Homo sapiens: one gene and its partner. The protein of the gene in region 1 interacts with the protein of each later gene in a pairwise test. Each region holds a gene or a part of one and is shown on either strand. Other genes may lie near its edges.

What was found.
Region 2: the proteins of STX8 (region 1) and DHRS9 interact in binary tests that used the Homo sapiens proteins (3 or more experiments, as listed by UniProt).

The regions. Positions count from the first base shown.
Region 1 is NC_000017.11:9,548,258-9,551,916, reverse strand, and holds part of STX8 (syntaxin-8), read left to right. Parts: intron 1-3,659. UniProt on the Homo sapiens protein: Vesicle trafficking protein that functions in the early secretory pathway, possibly by mediating retrograde transport from cis-Golgi membranes to the ER.
Region 2 is NC_000002.12:169,075,905-169,079,563, reverse strand, and holds part of DHRS9 (dehydrogenase/reductase SDR family member 9), read right to left. Parts: intron 1-3,659. UniProt on the Homo sapiens protein: 3-alpha-hydroxysteroid dehydrogenase that converts 3-alpha-tetrahydroprogesterone (allopregnanolone) to dihydroxyprogesterone and 3-alpha-androstanediol to dihydroxyprogesterone. Also plays a role in the biosynthesis of retinoic acid from retinaldehyde.

The sequences.
Region 1 (3,659 bases):
TTCTATATAAGTTACACCCCCCCCTAGTTTTTTTGGACATATTACTGGTCCACGAAACCTGAATGTCTAGGTGCCATTGGTATCGTGGGAACAACATCGGCTCTGAAAGCAGACAGAACTGAGATTGAAGACCAGCTCTGCCACTTACCAAGGCCAAACAGCAGTTCAGCTTTTCTGGACCTTAGTTTCATTATCTGTAATGTAGGAATAATCATACTTTGCCAGGTTATTGTACAAGTTGAAGAAAATCTTTTTTCTTCACAGGACTAGCCCCCCATAATGGTGGGTGTTGAATAAAAGGTGGTTACCAACACCCCTGGGGAAGTTACTTAACCTCTTTGTGCCTCATTTGTGGAATGGGATGCTAGAAGTCCACCTGGCGTAAAGGATTGTTGTGTAAGGATGAGATTATATGCATACAGGGTGCTTCACATATACTAAGTCCTCCTTGAGGATTAGCTGCTATTGATTATTTTATCATTATTGTAAAGATTTCAGCTACCATTGAGAATTTACAGGTCATCCTTTCTTTGTGGAGTTTTTAATCATGCATGATGGTTATGTCAAAACTCACAAACAATGATGGTATTAAAATAGTACTTGCAAAATGTGATCAGTGCTTTGAGGAAGGTAAGGACTTGGCCTGGTACATCATAAATATTTATTAGAGTTTGTTGACTTAAAAAAAGAAAGCCAGAAAAGTCTTTTGACCTCTAGAACCTTAAACTGTTCCCTTGCAGTTCTTCTTTTTTGGCATGGAGAATTAATTATCTGCAAACTTCTTCCTTCGCCAGAGCAGCTCTTTCACAAAATAAGGCTTACCTAAATTCTATTTTTTTTTGAGACGGAGTTTCACTCTTGTTGCCCAGTCTGGAGCACAATGGTGCGATCTCAGCTCACTGCAACCACCGCCTCACAGGTTCAAGCGATTCTCCTACCCCAGCCTCCCAAGTACCTGGGATTACAGGTGTGCACCACTACACCTGGCTAATTTTTGTGTTTTTGGTAGAGATGGGGTTTTGCCATGTTGGCCAGGCTGGTCTCAAACTCCTGACCTCAGGTGATTCACCCACCTCAACATCCCAAAGTGCTGGGATTACAGGTGTGAGCGACTGTGCCCAGCCTAAATTCTTAAGCCTTCTACCAAATATAAGAGAAAATCCAGGAGCTGGAGTGGGATTGGGTGACCTGTGGATCCAGTTGCATATTTACCCCGCTCCATCTGTGGTTCAAATGCTCACCAGGCTACAGCAGAGAAGCTGGACTTATGCATGCTGGTAGTAGGTATCAGTAATATGAAATCAGGATCCAGTTTTATTTTTATTTTTATTTATTTATTTTTTGAGATGGAGTCTCGCTGTGTCACCCAGGCTCGAGTGCAGTGGCACGATCTTGGCTCACTGCAAGCTCCACCTCCCGGGTTCACGCCATTCTCCTGCCTTAGCCTCCCGAGTAGCTGGGACTACAGGGGATCCAGTTTTATTTACAACCTTACATATCCATGAATTGGCTATAATTACATGTACAATCAGCATAGCCAAGGACAAAGTACTATGATAGTTAGCTCTTCTCTTCCTTTTCTTTATCTGTCTGTTCTCTTATCTTCTTCCTTGGCTATTCACCAGGTTGGTGGAAGAGGAGGTTCCCCAGCACTGGCCACTGACTGTGTGCTGTACTACTTTTTTTTTTTTTTGAGATGGAGTCTCACTTTGTTGCCCAGGCTGGAGTGCAGTGGCACGATCTTGGCTCACTGCAACCTCTGCCTCCCGGGTTCCAGCGATTCTCCTGCCTCAGCCTCCTGAGTAGCTGGGACTACAGGCGTGTGCCACCACACCCAGCTAATTTTTGTATTTTTTTAGTACAGATGGGGTTTCACCGTGTTGTCCAGGCTGGTCTCGAACTCCTGACCTCATGATCCGCCTGCCTCAGCCTTCCAAAGTGCTGGGATTACAGGCTTGAGCCACCGCGCTTGGCCTGTGTGTCCTACTTTCTACTTGTCCTTAGCATCACTCAGGCACACTGTTTCCCCACTACCCTACTTTACCCAACTGCTACGCACCTGTCCACATACATGCTGTATAGATTGTTTCCTGGATGATCCTTTGACCTCTTACTAATAACAACCCTTACATAGCAAGGGTGCTATGCAGATGGTTCATTAATCAATTTATTCTCATTCCATCTCCCTCCTCCCCATCTCCTTATGCTCTGTTCTCTCCGTAGATTAAAATATAAAACAAAGAGGCAGCATGTTCCTAATTGGATTGTTTTCCAGATTTACAGAGTCTCTGGGAATATTCTGAATTCGTACTCCCAGTATTGTTTTTATCAGGATTCTAAGAAGTGGCAAAGTTAAGTCAGCATCTCAAGGTGGAGAAGTCTGCAGAATGTTTGGTGGAAAAGCCATGAGCTAGGGTTGAAAGAGCTGTCACCTAGCATGGCTGTTAACCCAGGCAAGTGACTTAGCCATGCTCACCCTTAATTTCTGGTCAGCAAAACAAGAGAACTGGGATCTTTAAGGCCTCTTCTAGCATCAACTGTGTGGGTTTCTGTTCTTTGGTTACTCATCTACAAAACATAGTCATCAAGTTTTACTGTTTCTGAAACTGATGTTCTTTGTTAGCTCCTTCTTGACGTAAGTTTAAATCTGTAACTAGTATCTGCTGATTTTAAAATGTACCTTTATTGTTTTTATTACAAAAAATATTATACTTTCTACTGATACATTTCTCATTAGTTATTACCAATGACTCCTCTTTCTCTTCCTTATTCTATCCTGTCTCATCTCATTCTTTATAGTTAAGTGTTAATGGTTGGTAGCTAGTATCTCAGACTTTTCTAGGCTTGAAATATATGCATATGTAAACATAAAATTCCTTTGACTATAAAGGGATTATATTATACATATGGTTCTGAAGCTTGTGTTTTTATTAATTAGCAGATGATAGAGACAAACATTAGGAAACAATATTCAGTGAAACATCAGTCTCTCTTATACCCTTAATCCTCAGTTGTCCTTCCTTAGAGGCAATGTTTATATATCAGAAATTTTCTGTGTGTATATACACACATATATAGTTAGGATTTTTTTTTAACAAAGTGGGAGCACACTACTCACTGTTTAGCTCCTTGCTGCTGCTGTTTTTTTCCCCTCCTTTGGTTTAATGTTATATTTTGTAGATTATTCCATGTCAAATAATTCATGTAAACACTTAGTAAGTGCTCAAAAATGTTAATTATCATTATCAGCCCCCTAAACAGCTTTCCTATTCTTTTTTTAAGGCTGCAAAACATTCCATTGTTTACATACACTAGTTACTTATTGATATTTCCAATGTGGCTATTATAAATAATGGTTCAGTGGACATCCTTGCTTCTAAGTCCTTGTAGGACTGTATCTGAGGAAGAAATGTCTGTTGAAAGACTGTACCTTTTATATTTTGTTAGGTATTTAGAAGGCAGTCTAGCAGTTGGTTGAACCTGTTTGCATTCCTATCAAGAATGTATGAGGTGGCCGGGTATGGTGGCTCATGCCTGTAATCCCAGCACTTTGGGAGGCCGAGGTGGGTGGATCACTTGAGGTCAGGAGTTCGAGACCAGCCTGGACAACATGGTGAAACCCCATCTCTACTGAAAACACAAAAATTAGCTGGGCATGG
Region 2 (3,659 bases), on another chromosome or scaffold:
ATTTTCTTACAATTATTTCCTAATTTTTCCTTCGAATCCTTTTCAAAAATCATTTATTTTTTTCTGCTTGTAAAAGTAATTTATCCTCAAGAAAAAACATAGAAAAAAAGAAGATAGTAATGATTATAACACTTGATTCAATATTTTAGTGCATTTTCCCCATTTTCTTCTGTATTTGTAAAGTTTTCTTTCTAGATCAAGAAATATAAACATACACACAGAATTTTAAACACCACACACACAGACACACACACACTATTTTTACTGCTGTTTGAGAAACAGACTATTTCAGATTAAAAAAAATCAATGTAATGTCTTCTTCACTTCTCAAGAAAATTTCGGGCTCTGCTTTTATCTTTCTTCCCCCAGAAGATCTATAGCTAAAGAAAAAAAAAATGATAAAAGAATTGTCAGTTCAGCCGGGCCTGGTGGCTCACTCCTGTAATCCCAGCACTTTGGGAGGCAGAGGGGGGCAGATCACAAGGTCTGGAGTTTGAGACCAGTCTGGCCAACATAGTGAAACCCCATCTCTACTAAAAATACAAAAAATTAGCTGGGTGTGGTGGAGGGTGCCTGTAATCCCAGCTACTCAGGAGGCTAGGGCTGGAGAATCAGGCAGGAGAATCAGGCAGGAGAATCGTGAACCCAGAAGGTGGAGGTTGTAGTGAGCCGAGATCATGCCATTGCACTCCAGCCCTGGCGACAGTGCAAGACTCTGTCACAAAAAAAAAAAAAAAAAAAAAAAAAAGTCAGTTGATAAAAATTAAGTCAGAGGAATATAAAAATATGTTTGGAGAACCTACTTGATTCTTGTGGTATAGCTACAGCTATTTCTGAAGTAGTCAACTTTTTAGATTACCATGGCTTAATAATTTGGTATAGTTTTTCCAACTCTTTTCTGTGTAAGAGTTATAATTTGTTGCAAATCAATGTCCATGTAGCAAGATTTCCCGTTCTCAAATACATTATAAATGTATAATTATGGGAGGGGAAGTGGTATAACTAACTCTTGCAAAATTACATGTTTAAACCTTTTAAGGAAATTTTGTATCTACAAATTCAACTAATATAGCGTTTTGCTCAAATCTGGCTTCAGTAAATAATCACCGAAAGGCGAAATGTTTAATATATTTTCTGAATGGATTCTGCAGCTTTCATTGCAGTCTAAACTCCCAGGGGAATTATTTGAAGAAGACAAATATTTGTGGGGTTTTATGTTCTCTAGAGCAGAGAGTTGGAAGTTTTTGTGTTGTCATTTTTACCAGGGGCATGCACGAGGGAGTCACAGTAAAATAATGTCATACATTAGTAAGGCACTCTATGCTGTGCTTTCACACACAGGTCTCATTTTGTCCTCTCAATAGCGTTTTGAGTTAGAGAGGGCATATTATTTGCCTTAGAAACTGGCTCAAAGCAACAAAGTGATTTGCCAAGGTCACTGGGACTAGAGTGCTGTGTCCTTCCACTATAGGAGACAGATGAGGGGCTCTGGGGACTGGAGCACTCCACTCTGGGCTGGGCTGAGAAGTGTCCAAGCTGACAAGCTGAGTTGATAAGGTCGACACTTCACATCTTGTCCATGATTGCTGAGAGGCAGGGATAAAAGTCCACTGGCCAAAAGCAACATCTGACATCTGAAATAGTTGTGGCTACAGAGTCATCTCCCCTCATAACCTCCTCTGTTATAGTATAATAACTGACACAAGGTCCCAGAGGGGAAAGTAGATGAGGGAATGGGGGAAGGGAAGCCACAAGGAGGGTATGTTTCATGCATGTTCCTGTGCATGAAACTGGGTTACCAGCCCCTAAGGGATTGAATTCAGTTGGATGGATGATTTGGGCATCTATGAAAGCTTCTCAGACAAAAGGGTGCCATTAGAACTTTGAGAGAGTCTGTGGATAGAATTCAGGGGTTTCTACATTTGGATGGGAAAAAGATCCCATCTTTTTTTTTTTCCTGAACTGTAATTGAAGTTTAGCACAATCTTCAATTACGGAAGAAACAACAAACCGCAGTAGTATTTGTATTGCCTGTGATTTTGTTACCAATAGAAATAATAAATATTTTCATGTTACATTGCATTTGTTGGAATTATCTCAAAATATGATTAATGCTGATTACTACTTCAAAATTATGGTGGTTATTGTTCCTGCCACCATGTTAATAAAATAAACTTATAAATATTTGGATGTATTTCAATACAGTAGTTTTCTTTTGTAATACTATGTATTTCACTTCAAGTGTTAAAAAAGTTATTCTCACTTCTGAGGTAGCTGTAGTAGTGACAGTCATGTCAATCCAAATTTCCTAGGACGTACTCCAAAAACTATGCACAATTCAAAGAGAAGAACAAATAGAATCACATAAAATCCAAGCCTCCACCAGAGCTAGAAAACAGACAACCCTATTATTTCAAATTATTTGATTGAGAAAATAAGCACAGCTGACATCTGAACAACGTGGGCTGTTGGATCCCATATTGGATCCAAACTGCCTGGATCCACTTATGTCTTATTTTCTTCAGCCTCTGCCACCCCTGAAACAATAAGACCAACCTCTCTTCTTTTTTCCTCCTCAGCCTACTCAACATGAAGATGGTAAGGGTGAAGACCATTATGATGATCCACTTCCACTTAAAAAACAGTAAGTATATTTTATCTTCCTTATGCTTTTCTTAATAATATTTTCTTTTCTCTAGTTTATAAGAGTACAGTATATAATACATATACAAAATATGTGTTAATTGACTATGTTTTTGGTAAGGCTTCTGGTCAACAGTAGGCTGTGAGTTAAGTTTTGAGGGAGTCAAAAGTTATACATGAATTTTCGACTGAATGGGGCACTGGCGCCCCAATCCCTGTGTTGTTTAAGGGTCAACTGTAACTAAGCTGTGGATGATGGAAGCCAGGCTTCACACTGTCAGAAGGAGGAGTAGCAAATATGAAAAAGGAGAGGCTGGAATGAACTCTGTGGAGTGGGATTATAGTTGGAAGAATCAGTATGAACTCCTGGTTTTTAATATGAGTCAGTAAATACAAAAATGGATAGGTAACTTTCTAGATCTACCCGATGAGCTAGAAACAATGACACTCCAACAACAATGAACATACCAAGGGCTCAGAAACCAATTTCTAAACATTGTGTTCATGTTCTTTGGAAAAGCTAACATCAGGGCTGAGCTTGGAGGCGAATGTACAAAATAAGCCTGGAGCATCTTATGCTACAAGTAAGTAAGTGCTCAACGAATGCTGGAGATACATCACTAGTACATAGATGTCAGCTGGAAGGGGCTCCCACTGGCGAAGTAAGAGACAATTTGAGCATCAAAGCCAATAGTGATAATGGGTAATAACTCATTAAATCAGATATGAATTCATGAATCCATTCTGAAGTAAATCAATCAATAAATAAGGATAAATGGAAATTTTTCCTTAGAATTAATATGCCATCTAATAAGTGTCAGACGAATGATGGAATTAGAATATCACCATTTGGCAACTGACATAGCAACAATGGTTTCAGGCAGGAATGATCAATGGATGCTAAAACTAGTGGGTCAAATTCCGATGACAGACAGTCATTATAGAATCTCAAAGAATCTCCCTGTCATATACTTTCAAATTAAAGAGAGAATAATGGTAATTTTATAGTGGAGAAA